Linked DNA regions of Homo sapiens. The protein of the gene in region 2 purifies or fractionates together with the protein of the main gene of each other region. This does not show direct contact. Each region holds a gene or a part of one and is shown on either strand. Other genes may lie near its edges. The genes, in order: PLEKHA5, RTKN, KCTD3, LARP1, MAP3K21, AGAP1 and NAV1.

The links.
Region 1: the proteins of RTKN (region 2) and PLEKHA5 purify together in Homo sapiens (affinity purification with mass spectrometry, with the first as the bait; one large-scale study listed by BioGRID). This does not show direct contact.
Region 3: the proteins of RTKN (region 2) and KCTD3 purify together in Homo sapiens (affinity purification with mass spectrometry, with the first as the bait; one large-scale study listed by BioGRID). This does not show direct contact.
Region 4: the proteins of RTKN (region 2) and LARP1 purify together in Homo sapiens (affinity purification with mass spectrometry, with the first as the bait; one large-scale study listed by BioGRID). This does not show direct contact.
Region 5: the proteins of RTKN (region 2) and MAP3K21 purify together in Homo sapiens (affinity purification with mass spectrometry, with the first as the bait; one large-scale study listed by BioGRID). This does not show direct contact.
Region 6: the proteins of RTKN (region 2) and AGAP1 purify together in Homo sapiens (affinity purification with mass spectrometry, with the first as the bait; one large-scale study listed by BioGRID). This does not show direct contact.
Region 7: the proteins of RTKN (region 2) and NAV1 purify together in Homo sapiens (affinity purification with mass spectrometry, with the first as the bait; one large-scale study listed by BioGRID). This does not show direct contact.

The regions. Positions count from the first base shown.
Region 1 is NC_000012.12:19,346,233-19,349,732, reverse strand, and holds part of PLEKHA5 (pleckstrin homology domain-containing family A member 5), read right to left. Parts: intron 2,740-3,500; coding exon 2,551-2,739; intron 1,335-2,550; coding exon 1,214-1,334; intron 1-1,213.
Region 2 is NC_000002.12:74,431,938-74,435,437, reverse strand, and holds part of RTKN (rhotekin), read left to right. Parts: intron 1-2,771; coding exon 2,772-2,971; intron 2,972-3,500. UniProt on the Homo sapiens protein: Mediates Rho signaling to activate NF-kappa-B and may confer increased resistance to apoptosis to cells in gastric tumorigenesis. May play a novel role in the organization of septin structures.
Region 3 is NC_000001.11:215,598,304-215,601,803, reverse strand, and holds part of KCTD3 (BTB/POZ domain-containing protein KCTD3), read right to left. Parts: intron 1-3,500. UniProt on the Homo sapiens protein: Accessory subunit of potassium/sodium hyperpolarization-activated cyclic nucleotide-gated channel 3 (HCN3) up-regulating its cell-surface expression and current density without affecting its voltage dependence and kinetics.
Region 4 is NC_000005.10:154,800,377-154,803,876, forward strand, and holds part of LARP1 (la-related protein 1), read left to right. Parts: intron 1-1,630; coding exon 1,631-2,023; intron 2,024-2,913; coding exon 2,914-3,037; intron 3,038-3,163; coding exon 3,164-3,369; intron 3,370-3,500. UniProt on the Homo sapiens protein: RNA-binding protein that regulates the translation of specific target mRNA species downstream of the mTORC1 complex, in function of growth signals and nutrient availability.
Region 5 is NC_000001.11:233,376,224-233,379,723, reverse strand, and holds part of MAP3K21 (mitogen-activated protein kinase kinase kinase 21), read right to left. Parts: intron 3,295-3,500; coding exon 3,197-3,294; intron 794-3,196; coding exon 14-793; intron 1-13. UniProt on the Homo sapiens protein: Negative regulator of TLR4 signaling. Does not activate JNK1/MAPK8 pathway, p38/MAPK14, nor ERK2/MAPK1 pathways.
Region 6 is NC_000002.12:236,036,043-236,039,542, forward strand, and holds part of AGAP1 (arf-GAP with GTPase, ANK repeat and PH domain-containing protein 1), read left to right. Parts: intron 1-518; coding exon 519-673; intron 674-3,500. UniProt on the Homo sapiens protein: GTPase-activating protein for ARF1 and, to a lesser extent, ARF5. Directly and specifically regulates the adapter protein 3 (AP-3)-dependent trafficking of proteins in the endosomal-lysosomal system.
Region 7 is NC_000001.11:201,811,627-201,815,126, reverse strand, and holds part of NAV1 (neuron navigator 1), read right to left. Parts: coding exon 3,370-3,500; intron 3,225-3,369; coding exon 3,153-3,224; intron 2,663-3,152; coding exon 2,466-2,662; intron 1,988-2,465; coding exon 1,869-1,987; intron 1-1,868. UniProt on the Homo sapiens protein: May be involved in neuronal migration.

The DNA.
Region 1 (3,500 bases), on a different chromosome or scaffold from region 2:
GGTTGTTGTTGTTGTTGCTGTTGTTGTTGATCTCCTGACCTCAGGTGATCCGCCCACCTCGGCCTCCTGAAGTGCTGGGATTACAGGCGTTAGCCACCACCCCTGGCCTATCTATCTTTTTAATCTAGGATAGTTCTCTCTCTACTCTTTTCTTTACGCAATTGCCTTCTAGAAAAATGACCAGCATTAAGAAAAAAATCAGAGTATACATTACAGAAATATTATTTTAGAATTTACTTTGTTGATATTGTGTGAAAATTTGTTTCAGCCATTAATACCTTATGCATAATTTTAAACACACACACAGAAAAGACCCTGTCCAGGTGTGGTGGCACATGCTTGTAATCCCAACACCTTGGGAGGCTGAGGTGGAAGGAATGCTTGATCCCCAGAGTTCAAGACCAGCTTAGGCAACACGGCAAGACCTTGTCTCTACAAATACTTAAAAAATTAGTTGGGTATGGTGGTGTGTGCCTGTAGTCCCAGCTACTTGGAAGGCTGAAGTGAGAGGATCACCGAGTCTGGGAGGTCGAGGCTACAGTGAGCCATGTTTGCTCCAGTACAGCAGCTCAGGTGACAGAGTGAGACCTCACACACAACAACACATCACAAACAACAACAACAACAACAACAACAACAACAAAAACAACCACCAGAAACAGAAAAAAAAAAAAAGAAAACTCTCCCAGGAAATGGGAAACTTTAAAGTTTGACATAAACTTATTTCTTAGTAAAACCTAATCTGATGTGATGTCTTTTATTTTTATTTATGAGACGAAGTCTTGCTCTGTTGCCCAGGCTGGAGTGCAGTGGTGCGATCTCGGCTCACTGCAGCCTGCACCTCCTGGGTTCCAGTGATTCTCCTGCCTCAGCCTCCCGGGTAACTGGGATTCAGGCACGTGCCACCATGCCCAGCTAATGTCTTTTATTTTTAGCATTTATTTATGCCACTTGGAATGAATATTGTAGAAATAGTGTTAAAAAAAGGGTGCTGCCTCATACCTAGCTGAGATGACATATATCATTTATGGGCCATTTTATCTTTTAATATCTGAAAATTTCTTAATTTAGAAACTCATCAGAGTCCAAAGGTTTCAGATAAAGGGTTGGACTCATATATGAGTCAACATGTAAATGGAATTTACTACTATTTTGGCAGTAAATTGTCTTCAAAAACAAAAACCAAGAGGTAAAACATATTACAAATGCTGACCTTTAACAACTGAAGTTTCTATCTCTGAAACAGGTTCTGATTTTTCTTCTCCATTAGATTCATCAACTTCTGCCACTGTTGTTAACTCTGGTTCACTCTTGTAGAGTCTATAATCTGGACCCTTGAAAGGAAGACATGTAATTACCCTAAAAAACTGCTAAAAGTTTCTTTTAAAATGTTTACTGCTAAAGACACAAATCAAACTCTAAACATTAGTAGCCCTAGTGAGCCATCTGGGATATAACACAAATAATACCTATGTCACAATTACGTGGAAAGAAGAAATTTGAGAAATTTTTAAGTGGCAAAACTTCGTTTTAATATTAAGAATATTTCTGGCCGGGTGCAGTGGCTCACACCTGTAATCTCAGCACTTTGGGAGGCCAAGGTGGGTGTATCACCTGAGGCCAGGAGTTTGAGACCAGCCCAGCCAACATGGTGAAACCCTGTCTCTACTAAAAATACAAAAATTAGCTGGGCATGGTGGTGTGCGCCTATAATCCCAGCCATTCAGAAGGCTGAGGCAGGAGAATCACTTGAACCTGGGAGGCGGAGCTTGCAGTGAGCTGAGATTGCTCTACTGCACTCCAGCCTGGGAAAGAGTGAGACCCTGTCTCAAAAAAAAAAAAAAAAAAAAGAATATTTCTGTTCCTCTTAGGAACAAAGTCACATTTTTATGATGGAATAATTGAGGGCTAAAAATAACTATATTAATTCAATAAATTTTCATTCACAAGGTAGTCTAAGTGAGGCCCATCCCAGCACTAAAATTCCTGTCACAGACATTTTGTTGTTCTCAAATTAGCTCAATTCTAATTTCCTTTTTCTCTTTGCTTATTATATCCTACATTATTTGCTTAACCCTAAACGTATTTCCCATTTTCAGGGGTGACATCTCTCCTTAGCAACATCCACATCTTTGAGTAGTTTTCCTAGACCAAAATGTCCACATCCCAGCCCCTTTACCATCCCTAGTAACGGTCTTTTTCTTTCTCCCTTCTTTCTGATCTGAAGGTATAATCTTGCCTCCAATACCCTAAAATGGTATATCTAAAATACGGCTGCTTCATCATGGGAAAAGTTACCACTTTATGAAAATATGAAAAATGCTATGAAATTATAAAATATTAAAATTATAAAAATATTAAAAATGAGAATAGCAAAACCAAAACAGGAAAGACACAAATGATAAAGTCATATATAAACTAAAAACTGCTGGCCAAAAATGAGGTTATAAAGGTTATAATAAAAAAAAAGTTTGAGTGTAAAATAAATTAATTTTCAAAAATGAGAGGACATGTAGGATTGATTATTCTGTGGCTATTCCAGCCACTTACACAGTGAGATCCATTTCTTGGATATCCTTGAACTTGATACATCTTCTTTTCTTCAGGCAGATGAACTGGGCCCCTGCTATAACAGAGCAAGGAGCTGCTATCACTGGGCAGAGGGGGGATTATGGGAGGCTGCTCTGTAAAGTCATAGGACCGAGGAAGTGGAGGACGAGGTGGGACTACTTCCTCTTCCTAAAGATTGTAGAACAGTCACCTTATTTAGATAAGCAGATTGAATTAAGCATATCTAAATTCTTTGCAATGGTATATTAACTTAAATTTACTTTAAGATACTAAAAGGGACACTGCCAAGCCAAAAGTCTAATAATGAAAAGTAAAATCAAAAATTTTTTATCATAGCCAATAATTGGAATTTAACATATAATTACATCTGATTCTTTCCTGTAACATATAGGTTAGCTTCACACTGAAACTCAACATTGAAAGAGATTACTATTTAAAACTAATTACTGGGTTTCATTTTAAAACTAGAAGGAAAGAACTGATTTTAAAATCCTATTCTTATATTTTCACAATTTATCTTATTTATTTATTTGGTAGAGATGGGGTCTCGCTATAGTGCAGTGATTTGATCATACATAGCTCACTGCACCTTTGAACTCCTGGGCTCAAGGGATCCTCCTGGCTCAGCCTCCCGAGTAGCTGGGACCACAGGCACACCATGCCCGTCTAATTTTTCAATGTTTTCTAGAGATGGGGGTCTTGCTATGTTTACCAGGCTGGTCTCAAACTCCTGGGCTCAAGACATCCTCCTGCCTTGGCCTCCTAAAGTGCTGGGATTACAGGCATGAGCCACTGCACCTGGCCCCCCAATTTTTAAGAGAGGAAAAAAAAAAGTTACCTCTTTGGTTTTTATACGAAATTCAAAATAATAGATTCTTTTGGTTAGGTTGACAGTATCTCTTTGTAGTTGTAATTTCTTTATGCTACGC
Region 2 (3,500 bases):
CAAAGTATAGCGTCATTAAAATAAGCATCCCTGCCATTAATGTATACCACATGCTGGGCACTGTGCTAAGTGCTTTAAGTTCCTGCCTCACAGAATTCTCACAGCCCTAGGACTATTTCCATTCCTGATTTACAGATGGGGAAACTGAGGCTTAGGGAGGTTGAGCAAATTGCCCATTGCTTTTTAAGAAGCAGGACCTCCAGGGCTCCTTTCTAAATGAATGTTCCTGAGAATCCTGGTGTCTCTTCCAGGGCCTCTCAGCTGGCCCTTATCCACAGTCCCTCATTCCTGGACCACCTACCTTCCCATCCCCATTCCTTGCCTCTGACCTCATCTCCCAAGCTCAGAGGGCCGGTAGGTGGTGATTCTCTTAATTTGGGGTGTATAGGTTTCTGTGCAGCGTCAGTGAACACTGTAGGTGGTATGCTCCTTGTCCACTGATCCCTTGCCAACTAGATGTCCCTGGCATCACTTGAGTCTGAGGGATAACTCTCATTTGCCTTTCCTTCTGTCCATTCCCATGAGTTGGTGGTTCTCAACCTGGGTGTACCTCAGAATCACTTGGGGAGTTTTCCAAAAGTACATATGCCCCACTCCTAGAGATTCTTATTCTGCAAATCTTAGGTAGGGCCTGATCATTTTTTTTTAAACTCCAAAGATCTAATATTTTTTAAAGGAAATACAATTTCCAGTAGTACAAAGGGTATATATAAAGTATCATTAGGCTGGGCGCAGTGGCTCAAGCCTGTAATCCCGCACTTTGGGAGGCCGAGGTGGGAGGATCACTTGAGGCCAGGAGTTCGAGACTAGTCTGGCCAACATGGCGAAACCCTGTCTCTACTAAGAATACAAAAGTTAGGCCAGGCATGGTGTCTCACACCTGCAATCCCAGCACTTTGGGAGGCCAAGGCGGGTGGATCACCTGAGGTCGGGAGTTTGAGACCAGCCTGGCCAACATGGTGCAACCCCGTCTCTACTAAAAATACAAAAATTAGCTGGGTGTGGTGGCTCACACCTGTAATCCCAGCTACTCCGGAGGCTAGGCAGAAGAATTGCTTGAACCTGGGAGGCGGAGTTTGCAGTGAGCCGAGATCATGCCACTTCACTCCAGCCTGGGCAACAGAGTAAGACTCGGTCTCAAAAAAAAAAAAAAAAAAGAATACAAAACTTACTCGGGCGTGGTGGCACATGCCTGTAATCTCAGCTACTCAGGAGGCTGAGGCACAAGAATCACTTGAACCTGGAAGGTGGAAGTTGCAGTGAGCTGAGATCGCGCCACTGTACTCCAGCTTGGGTGACAGAGTGAGACTCGGTCTCAAAAAAAAAAAAGTATCATAAATGTTTTCCATCCCTGGCTCCCAGGCCTACAATCACTAATATTTTATGCATAAACATGCATATCTATATCTATGTATATATATGCATGCATACATATATATATATCATGCACAAATGGTAGTATGTGCAATACTACCCTTCTTTTCTCACATCATTTATTTTGGAGATTGTTTCATATCTGCATACATGTGCATATCTCTTTCCTTAATGTCTGCAATACTACAGGGTACAGATGTACTGTTACTTATTTAACCAATGTCCTACTGAAGGGGTTTTAATTTTGGTGTTTAAAACAATGCCACAATGAGGCCGGGCGCGGTGGCTCACGCCTGTAATCCCAGCACTTTGGGAGGCCGAGGTGGGCGGATCACAAGGTCAGGAGATCGAGACCATCCCGGTTAACACTGTGAAACCCCGTCTCTACTAAAAATACAAAAAAACAATTAGCCGGATGTGGTGGCGGGCGCCTGTAGTCCCAGCTACTTGGGAGGCTGAGGCAGGAGAATGGCATGAACCCCAGGAGGTGGAGCTTGCAGTGAACTGAGATCGTACCACTGCACTCCAGCTTGGGCAACAGAGCGAGACTCCGTCTCAAAAAAAAAAAAAAATGCCGCACTGAATATTTTTGTATGTATGGCTTTACCTAGATATATGTGAAATTATATGTGTAAGATAAACTGCTAGGTATTGGATAGCTGAATTAAAGGATATATGAATTTGTAGTTTTCATAGATTTTTTTCCAAATTGCACTCAAAAGAGGCTGAAGGAATTTATACTTCCAACCATCAAATGCATGAGGGCATCTCTATTTTTCTTATTTGTTTTATATATATATATATATGTTTTTTTTTTTTTTGAGCCAGAGTCTTGCTCTGTCGTCCAGGCTGGGGTGCAGTGGTGCAGTCTCGGCTCACTGCAAGCTCCGCCTCCCGGGTTCATGCCATTCTCCTGCCTCAGCCTCCCAAGTAGCTGGGACTACAGGCGCCCGCCACCACGCCCTGCTAATTTTTTGTATTTTTAGTAGAGACGGGGTTTCACCGTGTTAGCCGGGATGGTCTCGATCTCCTGGCCTTGTGATCCGCCTGCCTCTGCCTCCCAAAGTGCTGGGATTACAGGCGTGAGCCACCGTGCCCGGCTGTTATATATTTTTTTAGAGGTGGGGTCTCACTATGTTGCCCAGGCTGGCCTTGATCTCCTAGGCTCAAGGGATCCTCCCACCTCAGCCTCCCTCACACACCACTGCACCTGGCTACAAAGCTTCTCTGGTTATTCGTGGGCAGCTGAGATTGAGACCCAATGCCTGCTCTTGAACTGCCTAAAACATTAGTTTCTTGTCAGTTTTACTGGCCACAGCCCACCTGGGGACTGGGGAGTGCTTTAGCCTGTCCACTGACTGACATTTCCTTCTCACCCTTCCCCCAACCCTGGCTAGGACACGGAGTTGCAGAGGAAGCTAGACCATGAGATCCGGATGAGGGAAGGGGCCTGTAAGCTGCTGGCAGCCTGCTCCCAGCGAGAGCAGGCTCTGGAGGCCACCAAGAGCCTGCTAGTGTGCAACAGCCGCATCCTCAGCTACATGGGCGAGCTGCAGCGGCGCAAGGAGGCGCAGGTGCTGGGGAAGACAAGCCGGCGGTGAGCAAGGGGGAGACGAGGCCTCGATGGAGGCAGGAGGCCTTCTGGGTGGTGGTGGTGCAGCATGTGCGTGTGTGGCATGTGGACCACCTTAAAGATGACTTCCCCATGAAGTCTTATCAGGGACCTGGGAGAGACCTTGGTGTTTTACCACCACTGTGTGTTGCCCAGAGGCGCATTTGTGAGTAGCCAGGGCAGGACTTAGAAAAGTCGGTGTGTCTGGTGAAAGGTAGCTGATCTGAAGGGTAGCAAGTAATGCAAAAGCACTAATTTGCTAAGCCCTGTCTGTGATCCAGTAAGACTGGCTATCTGGCTTTTGGAAAATTAATTTCCTCAACGCTGGTTCACAAAATCACCAATTTACCACATACTGACAATAGTTTGTTATATCTGGGGTTCACCTTCAGAGGCAGGGAGTGGGAAAGGAAATAAGAAACCACTTAAGGAAAGCCTACCCATTCAAACAAATTAGATTGTGCATTCTAAAAGGGCTCAGCTTCTGGATGTAAAATGTAAGCAACACTGACAT
Region 3 (3,500 bases), on a different chromosome or scaffold from region 2:
TTCCTCAAAACTTTGATTCTTCTGGTAAAGAGGCAACCAATATCCAATTTTAGTAGGGCTTAGGAAATAAACTTTCTTTAGGTGCACGCGTGCACACACATATACACAAACATGCTACAGAGGAGAACCATCAATATACTTCCTTCAAAATATTTTTTTTAAATTGTATTTCCCACAGCAGTACTTTCCTTTCTCAATTTCGATTGGTTGTCTCCTCTTTTTTTGCATGTGATCACTAGATTGCAGCCCACTAGAACTGGAAGGCCGAGTCTGACCAGGTCCCTCTCTTTTCCCTTTCTCATACAAGAGATTAAATGACCTGTCCAAAGTTACACAGTAAGCAAGTGACAGAATCAGAACTAGTAAACAAAGCAACTGATTTCCAGAAAGTACTTGCTCCCTTGATAATTTATTATTTCTCTGAAAAGGTGGTATTCTCTATTTTTCATTCTCCTTGCTAAAGGTTACTTCTTTTCTAGGAAATGGCAAGGGAAACAAAGTCTCATTTGTATTTATTTTTTTAAAGTATAGGAATAAAAAAATTAGTTTTTCCAGGAAAATCAATCTAGTTTACAAATTAATACCTTCCCATATTTGTGCTAAAAGAAACCTGCCGAGGCAGGCAGATCACCAGAGGTCAGGAATTCGAAATCAGCCTAGCTAACACGGTGAAACCCTGTCTCTACTAAATATACAAAATTAGCTGGGCGTAGTGGCGCATGCCAGTAATCCCGGCTGCTCGGGAGGCTGAGGCAGGAGAATTGCTCGAACCTGGGAGGCAGAGGTTGCGGTGAGCGGGGATTGTGCCACTGCACTCCAGCCTGGGCAACAGAGTGAGACTTGGTATCCAAAAAAAAAAAAAAATGTGTTTGCTAGGATAGTTGCAATACTATTTTACTAGAGTGATATTCTACTATTCATCAAAATGAATCTTCCCTGTTTACAGCCAGGCCAGACAAGCCTGTTAAGCTTCTTCACAGATGACATTTGAATTACTAAGACACCAAGTTTTGCATACAAGTCTAAAAGATTTCCAATAATTTAAAAGTTAAAAATGTTAAGGGACTTTTACTTTTCATATACTATACCTGGCTTTCATTTGAAAAGTTAAAATCTAAACATTATCTGCTTAACATTTAAGTACTTTTTATGTACCACATATTATCCAAGAAAACAAACAATGAACTAGAGATAAGGGATGTGAGGTATCCCCTTGCTCTCTAGGAGCTGGTAACTTGTGAGAAAGAAAAATAACAGACAATTATAGTGTGACAGGCACTAAAATAGACTACAATACAATCACAGGAGAGAGGGGAAGAACTGCCATCTCAGTGCTGGTGGGTGAAGAGCAAAGATCAAGGAAGGTTCACAGAGGAAGTGAAGCTTGAAGACTGAAGTCAACTATGAGTTAGGTAGGGCAAGGGGAAAGGGAATATCTGAAGAGCAAGTAAAAAAAGCACAGAATCTAGGTTCATTCTAATTAAAAACAGAAATAACTAAAACTTGGAAATAATCATTCCTCTAAGCTCTTCCTGTATATAATCCTAATTTCTGTACCCTCTCAATGTCATGCAGTTATGAGTTACACAAGAAATATCTCAAAGAACTCAATCATCATGCCCTATCCTGAGGTCAGGCTTTTAATTAAAGCCAATGCCAAAACATTTTATACCAGGAAAACATTGAGTACTTTTCAGTGATATCAGTAAAGATGTCTAAAGGATGGAGGGGAGACTGCTTTACACACCACTAACCAATTTTCTTACTCAAGTTAGCTAAATCATTTTAGTTCTAGCACTAAAGGAAAGGGCTTCAACTCCTGCCCCAGATTCTTCATGGCAGGAAAATGGGGACAGATAAGGCCATGAGATTCTTCTCCCTTTGGATACATTCTTTTTTTTTTTTTTTTTTCAATGAAAGAGCAGCAGGAGCCTAGCGCTTCCCAAGGCACAAAGGCAAACATTTTTACCATTTATTCTCTGGGAGGATGGGCTCTAGGATTAAAGCCTTGCTACTTCTCCTTCTGTAACCTTTAATCATGATCTGCCTTTCTTTCCATGTCTACCCCTCCATACGGGAAAACAGAGAAAGCAGAGGATAAGCAGAGTTACAGTGAGTTACAACTGCTGAGTTCTTCTCTCCCAGCACAAGCAAGGAAGCAGCCACTGTGTGGCCTCCTCTTCTTCGTCCTAACAACTTCATGGCAAGAATCCAAGAAACCATACTGATTAGTATGCATGGTTCAGTCATGTGGTCACAAATATAAAATGGAAGTGGATTTTTCTCTTATAAGGTAGCACACAGTGATTACCACTAATTTCTACATGTAAATTTAAATTTACAGTTTTAAAATACCAGTCTATCTTCCCATATAAGGCCCCTAGAATCTTTTAACTACAATCTCTATACCTGTAAACTTATCATTATTTTTTACAGGATGTTTTAACCTTCGTCCATTACTTTTTAAATAATCACTTATCTAAATTTACCATCGTATTTACCAACATCTTTCCTAATCACTGCTTAATGCATTCCATTTCTTCCCCTTCAAATATAACGTTCTTCTCAAAAGGCATTTTTCTTTAGTAGTCCTTTCAAAAATTCTCTCTGAAAAAAAACCCTTCTCATTCAGGTTTGAATGATAGTTTTGCTGTGTATGAAAACCTAGGCTGAAAGTTACTTTCTCTACCATTTGGAGAATGCCCGTTGTCGTCTTCTGGTGTCTACTACTGGTGATGAGAAATCTGATCAAAGTCTAATGACAGGCAAACTGTCACTATTCTATGAATACTTTTTATCATAATTTATCTTTTATTATAGCACATTTAAACATTCAGGCTGCCAAGACTTGGTACATTTCTTTAATCAATAAATTCATGCCCATTTTCATTTCTCCAAAATGTTAGCAGTTGTTATCTTTTTCAATATGGCTCCTCTAGTCTGTTCCTATCTGAAATGCTTTCTCACTTTTTCCTTCTTTTTCATATTTTCTATCTCACTCTTGGCTCAACTGGAAATGATTTTCTCAGACGTGTCTGTCAATTTACTAATTTTCTTTTAGCTGCGCTTCTATTTAACCATTAAATAAAATTAAAAATTTTTTTTCAATGACCTTTTAATTTTCAGTATTTTATTTCCCTCCATTTTCTGATTTGTCCTATTCCTTCAATACAGCAGCTTTCTAATTGTTCCATTATTTCCAATTTGGGGATTGCAAATTTTTTCTTGTTTAATGACTTTTCGTTATTTGTTTCCATGTGAAGTTTATAAGTTTTGGGAGGTTATTTTAGCAGAAATTACTCTTTCTACAGGATTCTTGTGTGCTCTCTTCTGAGAAAGTGTTCTAACTGGTGTCATATCTGTATCTAGAAATGTCAATAGTCCTAGATCAGTTTCTCAAATTGGAGTTCTCATAGAACAAAGGCAAGTCTTTGTGCTTCAATTCACTCCTAATTTGAATATGTTGGTTTCAATTTCTAATGGTTTCCTCTTGCATCTCC
Region 4 (3,500 bases), on a different chromosome or scaffold from region 2:
CGTTTTTGGTGTCTTTTCCCTGAGTATGTCCCCACTATCATGTATGTAAGCCCCTTAGGTCCTCAGAAGAAGGAAGGGAGAGGGAGCAGATGCATGGCCCAAATATGGAGTTAGTCTACACAAGTCTGCTGCACTAATGGCAAGGTGACCTTGGGAAGCCTGTTCATACCTCAAGGCTTCAGTTTCTCCATCTGCAGATGAAAGGAAGGAGACATTAGAATATTCTAGAAATAGTTTATATATATAAACAGATGAAGTTCACTGTTAAAGAAGTATTGCAATCTCTAACTAAAATTACTACTTCCTTTTTAAGTGCTGAATTTTTCTCCACATACCTGCTCACTGTCACCCACTTTGGAGACCTCTGGCCTGGGGCTTGTGAGGAGACTGCAGAATTGACCTTGAACTTTGGGTCTATGGAATTCTATACTCCCTTATCTATTTTCCCACAGTGATTACCTCTCATCTCCTTTCTCTTGCCTGCCTGTTCATACACAGAATTCCCCACAGTTGTGGCTTCAGCCCTCAAAAAGTGTTGGAGATCCAGCCAGAGACATGAGGAGAAAGGTAGTAAGTAGATGAGGGTTTTACAAAGTCCAGGCCTACAAAGTTTTGTTTGAAACAGGGGTCAGACTTAGCTCCCATTCCAGAATTAGAGCCCCTACTCTGACCTGGTCTATCTTAAACCTTAAAAAAAGATAGGTTTAGAGTTTATGTGCTCTTGGCACAGCAGGGAATCTACTTTTGAATAAATACTGTGGGTTTAGACAAATGCTTCTCTCTCAGCGTCTCATATTCAGTCTATCAAAACAAATAGTTTTTCTTTGCTGAAGGCACCGTGTTTTCTCTTGCCTTTGGAACAATGGTATTCTTTCTGCCTAGTCTGTCCCTATCTTCATCTGGCTTACTTATGTTCATCCTGTGGTAGTCACTTCTTGAAGGAGGCCTTCCGTAACCATTCTTAGTCACAGTTGACTAAGCTCCTTTAACTGTGTGCATCCACAAACCTGCTTATAGCCTTTACCATACCACAATGCAGTTGGCTGTTTGGTTGACTTTCTCCCATTGAGCTCCCTAAGTAACAGGGACCTTGTCTTATTCTGCTTTTAGGTTTTTCATACAGAGCTTAGGACTAATGGGTACTCCCTCATTTATTATATAATTGAACATCTGGTATTACCAGATCCCCGTCTAGGTACTGAGTATATAATGGAAAGCAAGGCAGCTGTGGATCATGGAGCTTCCAGTTTATTGGGAGATGTTGAATAGATGGATAAGTGGATGAATCAACCTGCTGAACTTCTGTGTGTCCACTCCTAAGCTAGGTGCTATGTAGGATATAAAGGTAAATGAGAGCACAGTTCCTGCCTATAGAGAAGTCATCATCAGTTGTTTGTGCATGACTGTGATATGAGCTGTGAGTGGAGGAACCTGGACTTCTATGAAACATCCTTTCTCATAGTCATAAAGCTGACTCCCAGGATGACGCTTGTGACCTGCTGGTGTTACCAGGGTCATAGTTGAACAGTCTTATGTTGAGAGGCTGGAGCTTCCCTCTCATGGTATAGCTACAGAATCTGGGCCAAGGATCTCTGGTGATTCCTTTTCCCCTTCGTCTGTCCTATTTTAGAAGTCAGAGGAGTCCAGATTTTCCCACCTGACCTCTCTGCCTCAGCAGCTGCCTTCCCAGCAGCTGATGTCCAAGGATCAGGATGAGCAAGAGGAACTGGATTTTCTGTTTGACGAGGAGATGGAGCAGATGGATGGGCGGAAGAACACCTTCACTGCCTGGTCTGATGAGGAATCTGACTATGAGATTGATGACAGGGATGTCAACAAGATCCTCATTGTCACCCAGACACCACATTACATGCGCCGGCACCCAGGGGGGGACCGCACAGGCAACCACACCTCGCGTGCCAAGATGAGCGCCGAACTGGCCAAGGTCATTAATGATGGCCTCTTCTACTATGAGCAGGACCTGTGGGCTGAAAAGTTTGAACCTGAGTATTCCCAGATCAAGGTGAGGCTTGGACATAGCAGTGAGTGTGGAGCCTGGTGTGCCTGTATTGTACGGAGAAGAGGAAGCCTGATTAGCTGTGCAATTTTAGGCAGGTCCTTATAATTCAGAGTCTCAGGATTTTTATATATGGGAAGGGGATGATGACTGACATCTAGCTTGGGCATTAGGAGTGAGGGGTGATGTGTAAACACTGCAAACTCTTCAGGTGAGGCGGTGGTGATTATTATCCTATCTGCGGATCCATAGTTAATATTCTGACAGTTGGCTAGACACTTTTGTGGGGAACAGAAAAAGGGTTAGATTGTTATTTCTAGTCTTAAATATTTAGGCATCTAAAAATTTAGAAGCCTTTTAAGAAGCTTGTGTTGAGTATGGAAAATGGAGAAAAGATAAGTCTTTTGAAAAATTGCTGCTGCCTGGAAATAGTCAAAACATCTCTGTTGTGGGATTTTAGAGTGGGTATGTTTGGTGGTAGGTTGTCCTAGGGTGAGCCTTTGTAATAAGTAGCAGTGTGTTTCCTGGAAGTAAGGAGGAAGGAGAGTTGCCCAGCCACTGTGTGATAAGGCAGTAGCAGAAAGAGAGATGGGGAAACACTGGAGCTTTCAGGGGGGAGTGTGTAGTGAGTTCCTGAGGAGCTACTGTCAGCCTGATCTCAGTCTTACTACAGGGAGGGCAGGGCAAGCACTGTCTTCTTCTGGGCTAGCACACTTGTGCCAAGGTAACTGGGGTGAGGAATGGTGACTGGGCAGCTGAGAGCCTGGGGACCAGAATTCCACGTATGTCGACGTGGGAGCTGCCCTCTCCAACTTCCTGCCAGTCTTGATTCCTTAAACAGGCTAGAGCAGCCTGCTTACTTACATCTTTCCCCACTCATCTCATGACCTCTGCAGCAAGAAGTCGAGAACTTCAAAAAGGTCAATATGATCAGCCGGGAGCAGTTTGACACACTGACCCCTGAGCCCCCTGTGGATCCCAACCAGGAAGTTCCTCCTGGGCCACCTCGGTTCCAGCAAGGTGAGAAGCAGACACCTGAGATCCTGACATGGGTGAGAGGATCTAGGGCCCTTGGACTGGGGGCTATCCTGGGGTGGATGCCACAGGCCTTTCCCTGCTTCCTGACTCCTCTCTCTGCCTCTGCAGTTCCTACGGATGCCCTGGCCAACAAGTTGTTTGGTGCTCCTGAGCCCTCCACCATCGCCCGCTCTCTACCAACCACTGTCCCAGAGTCACCAAACTACCGCAACACCAGGACCCCTCGCACTCCCCGGACACCACAGCTCAAAGACTCAAGCCAGACATCACGGTTTTACCCAGTGGTGAAAGAAGGACGGACACTGGATGCCAAGGTGAGGCATTCCTGTCGGGCTGCTCAGAGTCTTGGGTCTACTTCATTGCATTCCAGTGCTTTGCTTCTCTCCCTTGCCTTGTCTGAGCTAAGGAAGTGCTAAATCCTTCACCTGCTCTGTGTTCTGAGGCT
Region 5 (3,500 bases), on a different chromosome or scaffold from region 2:
TAATGCAACCTACTTGGGGTCGGATTTCCATCAGACATGGTCCGTCTGTGATGTGACGGTCTATGTTTTGAAGAAGCACAGTAAGGTACATTCCCACATGTCTGCTGTAGGAAGGAAGACGGCAAGTTTCTTGATACACTACAATCAGTGTCAAGTCTTGGCATGAGGGCTGGCTCACGACCACTTCCTGGGGCAGTGGGACAAAAATCCGGAGTGAGCATCTCAGAGTCACAAGTGACAGGTGCACTGTCCACCAGTGGATCTTCACTGTCCATCTGCAGCAGGCACTTTGTGGAGAAAGAAGGTGTGGAGAGGATGCCCAGGGCACTTGACAGTGGCAGGGAGGGTGGGCTGCTGGCCTCCCCACAGGTGGATGGCAGGCTTGTGGGAGGACTGGCGCTTCTGCGGGACTTGGAAGCCCGCTGGAAGATTCCCTCTCGTTTCTTCTTCTCTTCCTTGGGCAACGGTTCTTCAGCAGCCTGTGCTTTATGAAGCTCTCTGAGGTCCAGTCCCAGAGCCACCGATGCCAGAAGGACGGTGCACCCATACAGAGCTGACTCCGTTTTCTTTCTCTGGGGGGATCTACTCAGACTATTCGTAGGAGTCATCTCAATGGAGACTGTGGCAGCATTCGCAGAGGCTGCCTCCTCCCAGCTTTCAGCTTCTGCAGGATTCTCTCTCTGAGCATCTTTCCCAAGAGGTAGATCAATGTAGGCCTGACTAGGCAATTTTATTTGTTTTGGTTTTCTGTGTTCTAATCCATCAGGGGAAAGTTTTGGCTCTTCACAGGACCCTAAATAAAGGTATAAGTACATACACTGTAGTATCATTTTACAGCAAAAGTCATTTAAACAAGATTGTAAAATAAAGCTAAAATATAATAAATACATATTTTAAATCAAAACACATGCAGCCCTTTTCATTTCTGCAAATGATTCATCCAGGAGGGCTCCATGGAGCAAGAGTCTAGGGCCCTACAACTTCAGGTTCCCTGCAGATGAACCAGCAAGCTAGCCATCTGCTGTTTCCTATGCTTCGGGAAGCTGTTCTTCATCAGCTTCAATAATAGACACTATTGTAGAAACAGTCATCAAAACACAAAAACGCACAACCATAGGCACAAAATCACTAAATATGTCACCAAATGTGCTCTTTTCCTCACTTCACCTAAATACATGCATCAGGCTCCATTATCTACAGCTTTCCTGTGTATAAACTAACTGTTCTGTAGCAGATCAGCAGTTCTCAAAGTGTGTGGCCTGGACTGGCAGCATCTGCATCCCCTGGGAATTTGTAGAAATGTAAATTATTGGCCCACCCCAGACTATGGAATCAGAAATTCTGAAGAGTGGAGTCCAGCAGTCTGTGTTTCAGCTAGCCTTTACTGAAGTTTGGGGACCATTAAAATAGAAGATTCTCCCAAGAGGTTACAGAATCCCAAAGGTTACAAATTATACCCGCTTAAGAGGAAGCTAACATTCTTATCACAAAAGTGACAGCGCATAATTAAACAACAAACTCATTAATCTGATTTCCAAATAACATCTCTAATTTTTTCCAACACTACATCCTAGTATACCTAAACATGCTTGATGATCTAGACCAGGGGTCCCTGAACCCCAGGCCATGGACTGATACCGTGGCCTGTTAGGAACCAGGCTGCACAGCAGGAAGTGAGCAGCAGGTGGGCGAGTGAAGCTTCTTTTGCATTTACAGCCAGTGCCCATTGCTCACATTACCACCTGAGCTCCGCCCTGTGTCAGTTCAGCAGAAGCATTAGATTCTCATAGGAGCATGAACCCCATTGTGAACTGCACATACAAGGGATCTAGGTTGCTCCTTATGAGAATCTAGGATCTGATGATCTGTTGCTGTCTCCCATCACTCCCAGATGGGACCATCTAGTTGTAGGAAAACAAGCTCAGGGCTCCCACTGATTCTACATTATGGTGAGTTGTAGAATTATTTCATTATGAATTACAATGTAATAATAATAAAGTGCACAACAAATGTAATGCGCTTGGATCATCCTGAAACCATCCCTACCCCACTGGTCCATGGAAAAACTGTCTTCCATGAAACTGGTCTCTGGTGCCATAAAGGTTGGGGACTGCTGATGTAGACAATTTGGGGTGCCAGCTTTCTTTCTCCAAAGAACCCTGTGCTCTTCCCTGTGGTGCCTTTTGTTTGGGGTACCCTCTTTTTCCTTCCACTCCCTGACGTTGCTGACCCAAGCTCCCTTTTCCTTCATAAAGGAGAACCTTCAGAAGGAGAAGCTGAACCCAGGTAGTGAGTGCAAAGGTGCTTGTGAAATTGAGCACAGTACCAATAACAAATTCAATACATTTACATTGTGTCTTGCTAAGGCATCTTTAATTTGATCAAAGTACCAAAGAGTCTGCCTAAATGGTCAAGTATAAAGACCAATTTTATTTTCTGTGTTAGTAACCGTGCTTGAAGTTTTTCAACGATTTCCATCTCTTCAATCTTTTAATACTGAATACTGAATACAAATATAGAATATTGAAAGTAAATCATTATGATTCATTTAAATTAAATAGAAATTCCAGTGTAAAACTCTCCAAGGAGTCATTTTTCTTATTTATTTATTTATTTATTTATCTAGAGATAGAGTCTCATTCACTCTATTGTCCAGGCTGGCATGCAGTGGCACAATCTTGGCTCACTGCCACCTCTGGCTCCCAGGTGCAAGTGATTCTCTTGCCTCAGCCTCCTGAGTAGCTGGGATTACAAGCAAGCACCACCATGCCGGCTAGTTTTTGTGTTTTTCATAGTTAACCTGTTTCATTGGATTTCCTCATGTCAACAGGTGGCACTATAGCAAGAAGCCATACCCCTTAATCTCAGCAGAACTTTCAGGGGGGTCTATATTTTTACATCTAATATTTCCCATACTAAATTGATTTGGTTTTACATAATTAATTGTGATAATAATGTTTCTGGTAAGGAAGAAGAGTTACAAATTCCCAAAACCACGTGAAGCCTAATTACTTCCTGCCATAAATACTTGACGGAAAATAACTTCTGAATTTAAGTAAAGCTATAAGAAATGCCATTACTTGCTAATCTCCCCTCTGCTACTTTAATGACCACGTAAGACTGTAAAAGCAAAGCTTCAGCACAATCAGATGCCAAGGACTGCTCAAGCAAATCCTACCTCCTGAAACACATTTACCTGGCTGGTCCACAAACAATGAAGCCAAGGGCATGGTTTTCTGATTTTTTATTAAGATAGTTGACCAAGGACTGTTGCCATCGGAGAGAGGTCTTATCCTACAAGAGAAAAATGTTTCTTTTCATAAGATAGAAGCACACAACACACCAATTAGGTTTTGGTGGATACAGACCAACAATATTTTTAAGGTAGTAAAGAGAACACATTTGTACTCAGTTTTGAAGGGCTGACAAAGTACAAATAATACCTGAAAGTGAGACAGGAAAAATCTCAGAAATATTCTAACTGCTTAACTAAATAATAG
Region 6 (3,500 bases), about 160 Mb from region 2:
TCCCTGTCTGAAAACGTGGGAATTGATGCCTCTCCCACGGTAACAGGTCCTCTGCCATAAAAGAACAGAACCTTCCCGCGTTCCTCTATCCATGGAGTGTCTGTGGATCTACGCGAGTGCTTAGATAGAAATTAACCCTGCAGCCGGAGATTAGCGGCCCTAACTTAATTTTCGTCCCACAGATAAGGATGGTCAGCCATGAGTTACATGGTTATTCTCCTAAGTTGCTTTGTGTGTGCACCACACAGAGACGCTGACATCACTCGTTGATTTCATCTGGCCTTGTGCCCTGAGCCTTGATTGAAACCTGGCTAAGTCATGCTGGCCTTAGGAACCACATCTGGACTGTTGGGAGGTGCATGGATTCAAATCTCCGCCGCCGTGGTTGTCCAGTGCCGTGCGCCTCACCGGTCCATGCAGGGGCAGCTGAACCCAGAGGCGCTTCTGTGACAGAGGGCCCGCAGGGGGACTGCTGTCTCATAAAAGCTAAACTCTTCATCCCACACTCTGTGTTTCAGAACAAGAAGAAAATTTTGAGTTTATCATTGTGTCCCTCACTGGCCAAACATGGCACTTTGAAGCCACGACGTATGAGGAGCGGGACGCCTGGGTCCAAGCCATCGAGAGCCAGATCCTGGCCAGCCTGCAGTCGTGCGAGAGCAGCAAGAACAAGGTGAGGCCCCTGGCTGCCCAAAACCAAGGCTGGGGCTGCTCAGGGGGAGTGCGGGCCCCAAGTAATGCCCCAGGGAGGAGAAAATAGAGGACCAGTGTGAATGACAGGACCTAGCTATTCTTTATGAGCAGAAAGCTCAATAACTAAAACGATCAGAAGCACTTTGTGTCTATACCATCATACATGAGTATTCCAGCCTGACCGTGCTTCCCTGGCAGGAGAGCCAAGGTTAAATCTTCAGTCTGTCAGCCAATCCCAGAGGGAATCTTTTGGACTCTTGTGGCTTCTGGGTCCACATTTATTTTTGTTTTGGACAGAATACACTCAGAAAAAAAGAGAGACGGACTTAAAAGATGCACTGTTCAAGTAAATGCCCAGAATTCAAATCGACATCAAGTTGGAAAACCGTCTCTTGTTAGGGACATAAATGAAAAGTAGATGGGTCTGTATGAGCGTGCAGGGAGTTTGGGAAGATAAAGTTTCTATTATCTAAACTGATAAAGCCTGGTATGTGTTTTATTCAATAATTAGAGGTGGTGGTGCAGCTCTTTTAGAATTTGTCCAGCAGGTTTTCTGGTTCTCACCAGAAAACGCCACCCCCAAATGTTTCTATATTAAAAAAATAATGAGAGGCAATTTGTTTTTTGTAGTTACTTAGCTAGAAAAGGAAAAATATTTTAACCTGTATTTTTTTTTCCTTTGGAGAGAGTCTATCTCTGTCACCTAGGCTGGAGTACAGTGGCACAATCTTAGCTCACTGCAACCTCCAAGCTCAAGCAATCCTCCCACCTCAGCCTCCTGAGTTGCTGGGACTACAGGCCTGGCTTGCTTGCTTATTTATTTGTATATTTATTTATGTAATATATATTATTTGTGGAGGTGGGGTTTCATCACGTTGCCCAGGCTGGTCTCAAACTCTTGGGCTCAAGCGATCCACCTGCCTCAGACACCCAGAGTCCTGGGATTACAGGCATGAGCTACCACGCCTGGCTTAACCTGTGTTCTCTAGGCTACTGCCCAGTGATGTTCCTTCTACAAAAGTCCTTTTTCCCATCAAGGATTGCTTCAGTTTCATTATTTTAATGTTTGTTTGTCTTTAACCTCTTTGCTGGGACGTCTTAGACTTTTGGAGAGCATTTTGATATTTCAGACTATGATCAACTAGAAACTAAGAGAAAGGATGTTACCCACCGACCTGCAGTTTCATTTGTAACCATTTAAAGAAATTTCTGCCTATGATTTATGTGCAGCTTTGTCACTAAAAAGAGAGTCTGTCTTTCAGAAAGATGAAGTGTCTTATTTTATTACCCTCTTTAACCAGGGTAAACCAGACCACAGTCATTATTATTATAATGTAATTTGCTTCCCTTTTTAAAAGATGTTTTATACTCAAGGTGGGGAGAACCACTGCCTTTCATTCCATACACCCTGGCTTTACTGGGTCACGTCCACATGCATCCATGATGTGCCTCCTGAAACGAGCACAGGGTGCTTTGGGGCCACCTCAATGGGAAGCAACAGCACACAGCATCCTCCAAGCGTGGGCAGCTCATTCTGAGAAGGAAGGCAGGGAGGCAGGCTGTGTTACCGAACAGAGAGGCACAGGTTCCTGCCTTCATGGAGAAATCACAGTCTTTCACGGCAGACTCTGAGCCCCTGCCACCTCGACCTAATTCAGGAAGATCTGGGATGGTGGCAGCCTTTCCCATTCCACACCTTGCCAGGCTCCTCCTGACTCGTGTCTCAGCTCATGCACACACCAGCCTTAGAATGCTGCCCTCGGCCCTCACTAGGCGCCTGTTCTCCAGGGAATTGCTCCCTTGGGAGGAGGACGCGTTGAGCAACCAAAGGTGGCCGACTCAGAGCTGGTCATCGTGGGCATTGGTTGAACAGGTGTGAGGGCATAAAACATGGAAATACTGTCCACAAGGAGTAGCGGGAGGCAAAAATACAGGCCCAGTTGACCACCAGCTTTATAGTATTTTACCTGCCAGTGGATAATTGAGAGCTGATACAGGTATAGGCATAGCTAGACAGACAGACAAACCAACCAACCACAGAAATGATACAGGTACACAGAGAGACAGAGGCACATCCCTTTGTATGTGTGTGTGTGTGTGTGTGTGTGTGTGTGATCACACACTTGCATTCCAGATGCCAGTGTAAACTGTTTAAACATATTTTGAATACTTGGGTATCTAACCAAAGGGAATTAAAATTCAATAACGCATGATGCTAATTAGACAGTAGTGATTAATACATTATAATTTATTATGTAGCAAGTAATATATTATTTCACATCAATTTGATGAGATGTTTCAATTTATGAAGAATTCTTACGCAAAAATCAAGCTTATTGTAACTGTCCTCTGAAATTGATCAATTTTTGCTTTAACCATAATATTAAATGCATACTTAATAAATAAGCCTCAAAAACACTACATATCAGCCAGACACGATGGTTCACGCCTGTACTCCTAGTGCTTTGGGAGGCTAAGGTGGGAGGATCACTTGAGGCAAGGAGTTCGAGACCAGCCTGGCCAACATAGGGAGACCATTGTCTCTACAAAAAAATTTTTAAATAGCCAGGTGCATGGTTCACACCTGTAGTTCCAGCTACTCAGGAGGCTGAGGTGGGAGGACCACTTGAGCCCAGGAGATGGAGGCTGCAGTGAGCTATGATTGCACTACTCCAGCCTGGGCAACAGAGCAAGACCCTCTCTCTAGGTGGGGAAAAAGGTACATATCCAGTACATATCCTTTCACTTAGAACTTCTACTTCCAGGAATCTATTCTTAGTAAATAATCATGAGTGTGTACCAAGACT
Region 7 (3,500 bases), on a different chromosome or scaffold from region 2:
CCTACAATTTCATTTTTCAAGTAGGAAATGTTTCCGCTTTAGTCATAATGCTTAATTTTTTTTTTTTAACTTTTTTTTTTTTTTTTTGAGACAGAGTCTCCCTCTGTCACCCAGGCTGGAGTGCAGTGGCGGTGATCTCGGCTCACTGCAAGCTCCACCTCCCAGGTTCACGCCATTCTTCTGCCTCAGCCTCCCGAGTAGCTGGGACTACAGGTGCCCACCACCACATCTAGCTAATTTTTTGTATTTTTAGTAGAGACGGGGTTTCACTGTGTTAGCCACGACGGTCTCGATCTCCTGACCTTGTGATCCGCCTGCCTTGGCCTCCCAAAGTGCTGGGATTACAGGCGTGAGCCACCGCACCCGGCTTTTTTTTTGTTTTTTACTTTCTTGAAAACAAATACTATCTGTGTGAAAATGCTTTTAAATTGAAAAGCTACTAATAATAATGCAACATTTCCTTAAAATAATATAATTTATAAATGAAATAATGATTTCTGGCATCAGTCTGACAGCATCTTTAGAAATTTACTATATCACCAGGAGATATCTATCTCAATAACAAGTTACTTTTACAGATAATATATGACCCATGGGTCTAGCCATTACATCACAGTTTATTAGTGCTGGAATGGACTTTAGTGATCATCATACCCTAATTTACAGGTAAGAAAACTGAGGTGGTTTTAAGAAAATGACATGTTCCTTTTGCACTAAGTTTTTATTCTAACTTTTAATTTTAATTGTTTTTTTTTTTGAGACAGGTTCTCACTCTGTTGCCCAGGCTGGAGTGTAGTGGTGAGAACATGGCTCACTGTAGCCTGTATATCCTGGCCTCAAGTGATCTTCTGGCCTCACCCTCCAGAGTAGCTGGGACTACAGGTGTGCACCACCATGCCTGGCTGATTTTTTTTATTTTTTGTATAGACAGGGTCTCCCATGTTGCCCAAGCTCCTGGGCTCAAGTAGTCCTCTCGCCTCAGCCTTCTAAAATGCTGGGATTACAGGCGAGAGCTACCAGGCCCAGCCTTATTTTAAGTTTTTTTGTTTGTTTGTTTGTTTTTGTTTTTGTGACAGAGTCTCGCTCTGTTGCCCAGACTGGAGTACAGTGGCGTGATCTCAGCTCACTGCAAGCTCTTGCCTCCCGAGTTCACGCCATTCTCCTGCCTCAGCCTTCCAAGTAGCTGGGACTGCAGGCGCCCACCACCACGTCTGGCTAATTTTTTGTATTTTTAGTAGAAAGGGGATTTCACCATGTTAGCCAGGATGGTCCTGATCTCCTGACCTGGTGATCTGCCCGCCTCGGCCTCCCACAGTGCTGGGATTACAGGCATGACCCACCACGCCCGGTCTCCTTATTCTAACTTTTAAAAATCTTTTCACATATTTCATTTTGTCTTCAAAAGACTCCAGTGATTTAGGTAGAGCAGAAGGTGATGTCTCCTTTTTTTTTTTACATATGAGGGTATTTAAAAAGGTCAAGTAACTTGGTTAATATAACATACTTATTAGTAGTAAGTAGCTAAGGTTTTGTTTGTTTGTTTGTTTGTTTTAATTAGGGTTTTACTTACTTCTTAGCTCAATTATTTTTCTGTTTGCTCTGACCCCTAGAGAGTGGTTTAAATTGGGCTTAGAGCCAGAAGGCCTAGGACTGGAGAGATGGCCCCAGAGGCAGTGGTCATTGTACCATTTGCTGAATGGCAGCTGGAGGCAGGAAAGCAGCTTAGTCTACCCAGTGCCTTGCTCCACCTGTTAGAAAGAGAACCTAACTAATCCTAGTAGTCCCATGCCTAACATTAAAGAAACATTCCTACTTTGTTAGGTAGGACAGCCTGATCTTAGGGTTTGAGTGAAGGGGGTAGGGCTCACCTTTATCCCATCCTTGGCTCCTTCCTGTAGATAGGGAATGATAGAGTTGTTCCACAGGTCAATGAACCAGGTCCGGAAGTCCTCAATGCCAATGGGACACGACAGAAAGAAGCAAGGGCCTAGGGAAGAGGATGGGGCCATGAAGATGGCTGGGAACCTAGATCTTCCCGGTTGTGTGCCTCTTTTACTCCTTAGTACCAGGCAGAGGGGTCTGACAGTCAAAGGATTAAAGGAAATTTAGAGTTGTCAAGACTAGTGGGTGCTGACTGCCTAGATGGCAATCTCATAAGTCCTGCTTCACAAGGTAGAAGTGAGATAAGGGAGTGAGGAAAGCTGTTTAATTCCTTCCTACATATGTGCCTCCTTTTTTCTGTTAATTGTGGGAAAAAAACAAGGAGAGGGGTTAGCTTTCTGGTGATTGAAGTGGTGCTAACTGTGTTGGGAAGGCTCGTTAAGTGGTTCTAAGTCTGAAGCCACAAGGCTTGCAGCTCCTTTACATGCCGAAGACTCCAGGAAGAGAAGGGAGCATCCCTCCAGGTGGTACAGTGGAAAAGGGAAGCCACCTCCTGACCCCCGGGGGAAGCTGGACCCCAGTACCGATGAGGAAGTCTGAGGTGCTGTGCTTCTCAAGGAAGGTGTGGAGATGATACCACAGCTTGGGTACCCAGTCGAGCACCCGAAGCAGCTCTTCCTTGTTGGCATTGATGTCGCTGTCTGACTCTACCAGCTTCCTCCTCAGGTAACGAACCAGGAAGCCATTGGCTGGCTCCACGTTGTTGGAGAAGGTCAACATCCTGCCACCAAGGATGGGGAAAGTGGGGTCAGAGTGGCAATGGGGACATTGTCAGGGTTCAGCCCCTGCCAGTCTGTCCCTCCTTCTGCCTGCTTCTCACTAATGCCTACTTGGTTTCTTTTCAAGTAATAGTGGGGACATCGGAACTCAGAGCAGCAGCCCTGGGGTGGTAGAGCTGATTCTCAAATTGGTAGCCCTCTTCGGATAACCTTCTGACATCACTGACCCAGATCAGCGTGTGCGGGCAGAGAATCCTAATTCTGCTTAGAGCAACCTACCTGGCTCTCTCTTAGCTTAGCAGGCCTTTTCTCTCCTCAAGTGTCCTCCTCCACCTTGTAACTGACATGACAAATACATCTACTTTCTATTTCCAGCCCAAAAAGCTCTGGATACTTCTCTTTCCTTCTCCTATCTACTGCCTCCTGGCCAGAGTCCAGGATTGAAGACTCTTGGGTAGGGTCAGAAGGTTCATCCAGAGCTAGAGGTCTTACCTGAAGCTCAAGTGCAAGCCATGGTTGGGTGTCATTTTTACAGGCTGATTGGTGGTACCTATAATATAGGGACTGTAGGGAGAAAGGGGAAAAAGATTCACTTAGACTTGCCTTCACACTTGCTTTCTGCCACATGCACACAACTCATAGGTTGTCCTGGACTGGGTTCTCCCTCCTCCCACTTCGATGAATTTTGTCTTGATCCCAGCTTACTTACCATTTATGATACTTGCAGGTGAGGGCCCCATTGACCAACTCACTGATGGAGCCTGCTTCACTCAGGTCATCCAATAGAATCACCAGGGGCACATCCCCAATTCCTGTTTCCCGGTCTATCTGGTTGGCTAG